Regions from separate parts of the Homo sapiens genome. Here region 1 is reported to be linked to region 2. The links are microRNA targets in miRTarBase. Many come from high-throughput screens and were not tested one by one. Region 2 holds a microRNA gene; the other region holds the end of a gene's coding sequence.

Region 1 (3,308 bases), not on the chromosome of region 2:
GGGGGGCTTCGGTAGTGAACTTCATTCCTGGGAGGACAGATGGCTGCAGCCTCATTGACAGCAGAGGGAATTGCACAAACCCTGGCTTACTCCAGTGGCTCCTGGACACACTCAACCCCAGCACCATGGGAGGGGGACCAGAGGCCAGCTCTGCAATGGATGGGCAGCTTGTTTAGAAGCCTGTGGTGGTTGCCAGATTGCCTGGTTAGAAAGTTAAACCCCTCCCTCCCTCCCTTCCATTCCATTTTTTTTTTTTTTTTTTTTTGAGACGTAGTCTCACTCTGTCGCCCAGGCTGCAGTGCAGTGACGCAATCTCAGCTCACTGCAACCTCTGCCTCCCAGGTTCAAGCGATTTTCCTGCCTCAGCCTGCCAAGTATCTGGGAATATAGGCATGCACCACCACACCTGGCTAATTTTTTTATTTTTAGTAGAGACAGGGTTTCACTATGTTGGCCAGGCTGGTCTCAAACTCCTGACTTGGTGATCTGCTCACCTTGGCCTCCCAAAGTGCTGGGATTACAGGCGTGAGCCTCTGTACCCAGCCTTAAAAAAAACAAACTTTTTTTTTTAGAGACAGCGTCTTGCTATGTTGCCCAGGCTGGTCTTGAACTACTGGCCTCAAGTGATTCTCCCAAAGTGTTGAGATTACAAGAGTCAGACACCGCACTCGACCTCAAAACTTTGACTTCTCGTTGGACTGATCTTTTCCTAGATGCCATTATTTTATTTATTTATTTTTACTTTTAATTTTTTTAGAGATGGGATCTTTCTACGTCACCCAGGCTGGAATGCAATGGTTATTCACAGGTGTGATCATAGCTGGTCTTGACCTCGTGGGCTCAAGTGATCCTCCTGCCTCAGCCTCCTGAACAGCTGGGACTACAGGTGTGTGCCACCACATTTGGCTTACCATTATTTTAGAAGGACTTACACCTGTCTTGCTATCTGGAGTCTGCAGATTTCTTACCCAAGGTAAGCTCAAGCAGGGCCTGTTGTCTGGAACAAGACCTGTTCAAAATGTTTGCCTTAATGCTACAGTAGTAATGGTGATAGTCAATAGTAGCTTGCTATGGGTCAGGTACTGTTGTGAGAACAGAAGCTCTCAAAGGGGTATTGGACTCTGGGGATGGCTGAAACACTTCGTGGGGGCGGGGGTTGGTGTCCACGAGACCAAATTATTATTATTAATTATCTAAGATGGAGTCTTGCTCTGTCACCCAGGTTGGAGTGCAGTGGCACGATCTTGGTTCACTGCAACCTCCGCCTCCTGGGTTCAAGCAATTCTCCTGCCTCAGCTTCCCGAGTAGCTGGGATTACAGGCACCCACCACCACGCGTGGCTAATTTTTGTATTTGTAGTAAAGACGGCGTTTCACTATGTTGGCCAGGCTGGTTGTGAACTCCTGACCTCATGTGATCCACCCACCTCGGCCTCCCAAAGTGCTGGGATTATAGGCGTGAGCCACCGCGCCCTGCCTTTTTTTTTTTTATTTTGAGACAAGAGTCTCATTCCGTCACTCAGGCTGGAGTGCAGTGGTGGGATCTTGGCTCACTGCTAACCTCCGCCTCTCAGGCTCAGGTGATTCTCATGCCTCAGCCTCCGGAGTAGCTGGGATTACAGTTTGTGCAACCACGCATGGCTAATTTTTTTTGTATTTTTAGTAGAGATGAGGTTTTGCCATGTTGGTCGGGCTGGTCTCGAACTCCTGACCTCAAGTGATCCATCTGCCTTAGCCTCCCAAAGTGCTGGGATTACAGGCGTGCATGATGCCCGGCCTCCTTGTCGCTTTCAAACAGTGCTTCTAGGAGCTAACAAAGAAGTGCCTCTTTGTATGATTCCCCAAGAGAGACCCACCCAGGCAGCACCTAGCCAAGGGACAAAGACCACTCCTATCCAAAAGCCCTTTGATTCAACTTTTTTTTATTTTTTTTTTCTTTTTGAATGTCATGCAATAATTCACAGTCCCAAGCCCACGGTTTTCAAACAAGGTAGGAAAAAAGGAAAAAAGAAGCAAAGGAATCGGTGGTGATGGTGGGTTTTTCTTCTTCTTTTGTTGTTTCAAGCAGGACCAAATGTCAGAAAAAAATGCCTCTTTTCTCAATCATTAATTTTTTTGTCCTTTTTAAAATTGTTTATTGTTATTATTATTTTTTTAAATTGATTTCTGCAGGCAGTAATAGTAGGGTTTGGTATAACCGGCAAGCACTCTTGTGTGTGTCTGAGAACGTGTGTGGGTGTGAGTGTGTCTGGTGGTGGGTGTAGGGCACTGGGATTCTGGTTCCTTCTGGCTTCTTTGCCGCACTCGGCCACCAGCTGTCTTCATCAGGGAAAGGAAAGATTCAATTGAGATGATAAAACTCATCAATAGAAGCTATTTTTTTCTCCCCGTTTTTTCTTTTAAAAATGTTTTTTTTTTTTTTTTTTTTTTTTTTTTTCATGTTCCCCAAAGTTCTCCAAAAATGGCTGAGTTAATTCAAATCCCTTGGCTGTGTGGTTTGTCTGCTCCCTGCCTCCCACCCGAGAGCCCCTGTCGTGGGTGGGGGGATCGGGGCTGGTTGGGGGGCGCCGTGGCTGCCCAGGAGGGTCTCTTTTGGCCGAGGGTCTCTGCGGGACACCCTTGTGGCCCAGCCCTGGCCTCTCCAGAGTCTGGGGTCTCCCGGCTGGCCCTCTCCCGGGCCCTCTGTGCTGGGCCCCCGCGGCCTCTGCGCGGCTCCTCGGGTGGGGTGTGTGCGTGGGGTGCGTGGGGGGCCGGGCGGGCGCCACCTCGCCCGGGCTTAGCACCAATCATCGTCACTCTCGCTGTAGGGTTCGTGCAGGCCCTTCCTGGAGCCCGGCCCGCGGGGCCTGGCCAGTCCGTGCGCCGGGTAGTAGCCGTTGGGGAGTCGCCGGCCGTGCCGAGAAGGCGAGGCGCAGGCCGGGCCCGAGGCCCGGGGAGTCCTGGGCGAGCGCCCGGTGGCGCCCGAGGACGCGTGTCGTACGGGGGGTGGCGCGTCGTAGGCCCCGGCCATGGCCTCCTCGCCGCCCCCGCTGCCCGGGCCATCGGCCTCGTCGTAGTCGGAGCCCCGGTAGTAGCCATGGTGCCGGGGACCCGGGGGCCCCTCGGACACGTGCGGGCCAGATGCCGGCCACCGGGCCCCGCCGTGTCGACAGGCCCTGGGGGACTCGCTCCGGGCCGGGCCTGGGACCCGCCTCTCCATCCTGGGCGAGCGGCCGCTGCTGTGGCCCCCCGTGGGCGGCCGATCTCCGGCCAGAGGCTCGGCCGTGGGGCCTGGGTACCTCCGAGGGCCGCTGGTGGCCGCCCGGCCCG
Region 2 (3,308 bases):
CACTCAGGTTCTGCAACAGAAGCTGACATCCAATATATAGGAGTAGATACTGAGGACGAAGAAGGAGGCAAACACACTGTATGACAAAAAATCATGGTGCACAAAATTATATTCATGGTACAGAAAATTCCATTTTTAGTACAATGTAGACAACGATGGTGCATTTTCACAAATCATGATGAATGAGCAGAAGACCATAGCTAAAGGGCATAAGCACATTCATACAACCATGGAAAATTAGCCAGGGCTCACTTAGAGCCAAGAGACATCTTATGAGAAAATAATCATAAGTGGAGACCTCATAGATGGATATAGTACAAGATCAAAACATCTCAATACATGAATGATTATTTCAAATGTAGGTGGCAAAGGTGCATAGAGGACCCACCGTGTAACATGTTCAGACAAAAGTTGATGAAAGCCATTAGTGATATTTGACTGTTTGATCTTGACTTACACAGGTACACAAAAGTAGTTTACACTATTACGTAGCATTTATGCCAAAGGAGCTAAGAGGCATAGATAGATACAGCACACAAACTTGTTTTCGGAGAATAAAACCATGCTGTGGTGCTTACTTAGACAGATATTGTGCCTTATACAAGAGCCACGGTACAGGGGTAAACAGCTTTGTCCATGAGTAGATGTCAGATATGTCAAAAGAGACCTGACACCATATACTCAGATGACCATTGCATGAACAGCCACCACTAGTATTTGGGCATTTGACTATGATGGCTACCTACACAATCCCACGACATAAAGTAAAAGAATGATACAGGAGCAGGTAGACATGAAACCATGATTACCAAAACGGATATGGTTGGTGATTAAAAATCATTATTTTCTTTAGTCTGGGAGAAGATGGCAATGATTAAACGGGTGAAGTTATGATATATGCTGAAACAGCCATGTTGCATGAACAGCCATCACATCATAGGCATTTAAGCATTTGACTGATGTACAATTAGAAAGCCCAGTGACATGAGATAACATCTGTCTTTTTGGAACAGATAAACAATGTGCAGAAAAAGGCAGAAGTGATCTAAGAGTAGAGAGTCATAGAATATGAGTAAATACTAAACTCATATACACGATGCATAAAACACTATTTCCCTGTAAAGCAGTAGACAATGAAGGTTCCTGCTCAGAAACCATGGGGTATGAGCAGACAAGCATGCTGCATGCTCAGACAACCATGGTGCATGAGCAAAAACCTACAATATAAAAGCAGGTGGGTGTGATACAAGAGTGAATAACACAATGAGGAATATGCCCAGATGGACAGGACATATGAATAAAGGAAACATAACACATGAATACAACTTATTTAGGCAAACAGCATATGACAATGATGCTGGAGGAGATATCATGGCACATACTCAGGCAATCATGGTGCATGAGCAACTAACACTAATATTTGACTGTTAAACCACGATGTACACCCAGATATCCCAACAAAAATAAGCTGATGACCATAATATAGGAGCAGATGAACAAGGATATTGAAGAAGATGCTGATAATAAAATAGCAGAAAACGATAGTGCAGTAGCTAATAGAATACTACAGATGGCAACGATTCAAATGACTGCCATGGCATATACTTATATAATGATGCTTTAAACACTATCACAAGTATCAGCATTTGACCATAATGCACACTTAGAGAACTCCAGAATTTGAGCTGACAATTATTATACACGATCAAGGGACACAGTATCATTATCATCATTGTCATGTCATCATCATCATCATCATTGTTATCATCATCATCACTACCTGCCAGGCAGTATTAAAAATATTTTATGTATAATAGCTTATACAATCCTCACAATAACCTTACTACTTTTTTTGTCATTTTGCAGGAAACTGAAGCATGAAGATACGAATTGATGTGTCCATTTCATGAACTGATGTGTCCAAGATCTCATAGCTAGTAAGTGGATAATCCAGGATTCAAATTCAGTCATTTTGGCTCCACTATCCATTATTGTAAATATGACAATAAATGACAATATGCTGTGATTCTTCTGACAGACATGATACCAGATTTTAAAACAGAGCAGAAAAATGAGTGGCTTTGTTCCAGAAGCAGATGGCAATGTTGCAAAAGTAGACACCATAGCACATGCTCAAACATCCGTGGTGCATAAGCAGCCACCACAGGAGTCTGAGCATTTGACCACGATGCACACACAGAAGATCTGCAACATGAGCTGATACCAGGTTATAGGGAGTAGACAGATGACAAAGGACAGAGAAAACTCATCACAATAGTGAAAGACATGGTGTAGAAATTAATATACATAGTACAAAATACTCATTCCCAGTACAAGTAGACAATGATTGTGTATTTTCACACAAGTGTGGTGTTTAAGTTTAAATACGTAGTACAACTTCAATCACAGTATATGAGCACAAATTCATTATGTATGTTTATATTATCATGGAGAATAGGTCAATTCATACATGAAAAAGGGGATAGATATGGTATCCCAGGAAAGAATCACAGAGTAAAAACTGCTCAGGTGATACAAAAAATACGGGTATGTATGGCATTTTGTCAAAAAGAAGATCAAAATAATACAGGATGTTCAGATGAATAAGATGCCAAAAAGCATGTTTTAATATGTGTTCATGAGGTCCAGTCAGACACCTACAGGACATAGGCTATCAATTATGACACAGGTGCAGATGGACATGATATGGAAATAAAACATGGTGTGATTCTTACTTGGGTAGATATGGTATGTAATCAAAAATAACCATGCAAGCAATTAATGACTTTGGCCCAAGAGAAGATGACAGTGGTACAAAAAAAAGACTCACATGGACATAATGACTCATAAAAAAAATAACCATGGTGATTGACTCTACACATTTGTGTTTGGGCATGATATAAATCCAAACGATCCCATTACACAAACTAACAGCTATGATACAGTTAGTAAGCATGATACAGGAACAGACAGCAAATATGGAGAAAATACCCATTCTGCAGGAGCCAGTGACCACAATTCAGGAACTAATATTCATGTTATTAAAGTTATCATTCTCCACACAGAAGGAGATTATGTTTATTTTTTACACATTAATGATGGGTGAGCAATATCTATGATGTATACACAGAGAATCAATTAGTATACACATAAAATACACAAGCAGTTGGCTATCCTTCAGGAGTGGTATCCATTCAGACGCATGTCCCTATCCGATATCCACAATACTGAATCAAGTTTTCAGTTAAGGATAAGATGACAGTGGTGCAAAATGACACCTCATGCCATATGCTCAGATGGCTCTTTTG

The links. The annotated mature microRNA hsa-miR-767-3p reads UCUGCUCAUACCCCAUGGUUUCU and lies in region 2 at 1,150-1,172, opposite strand. An mRNA with a match to its seed (bases 2 to 7 or 8) in the 3' UTR can be bound and repressed. Matches are read on the target gene's strand: a 7mer-m8 pairs with bases 2 to 8, a 7mer-A1 pairs with bases 2 to 7 and ends in A, and an 8mer does both.
Region 1: miRTarBase lists CACNA1A as a target of hsa-miR-767-3p. Seed matches in the 3' UTR shown: 7mer-A1 at 2,500-2,506.

Annotation. Positions count from the first base shown.
Region 1 is chr19:13,204,538-13,207,845 of GRCh38, forward strand. It overlaps CACNA1A (calcium voltage-gated channel subunit alpha1 A), which reads right to left. Exons shown (of 47, transcript NM_001127222.2): 47 at 1,905-3,308. The coding sequence ends at 2,776. Among named protein-coding and RNA genes, the nearest start is that of IER2, 56 kb to the left of the region's middle.
Region 2 is chrX:152,392,298-152,395,605 of GRCh38, forward strand. It overlaps MIR767 (microRNA 767), which reads right to left and starts at 1,232; the gene lies at 1,124-1,232. All of the region lies in intron 1 of GABRA3 (gamma-aminobutyric acid type A receptor subunit alpha3), which reads right to left. MIR105-2 (microRNA 105-2) reads right to left here and starts at 2,195; the gene lies at 2,115-2,195. It overlaps MIR105-1 (microRNA 105-1), which reads right to left and starts at 2; the gene lies at 1-2.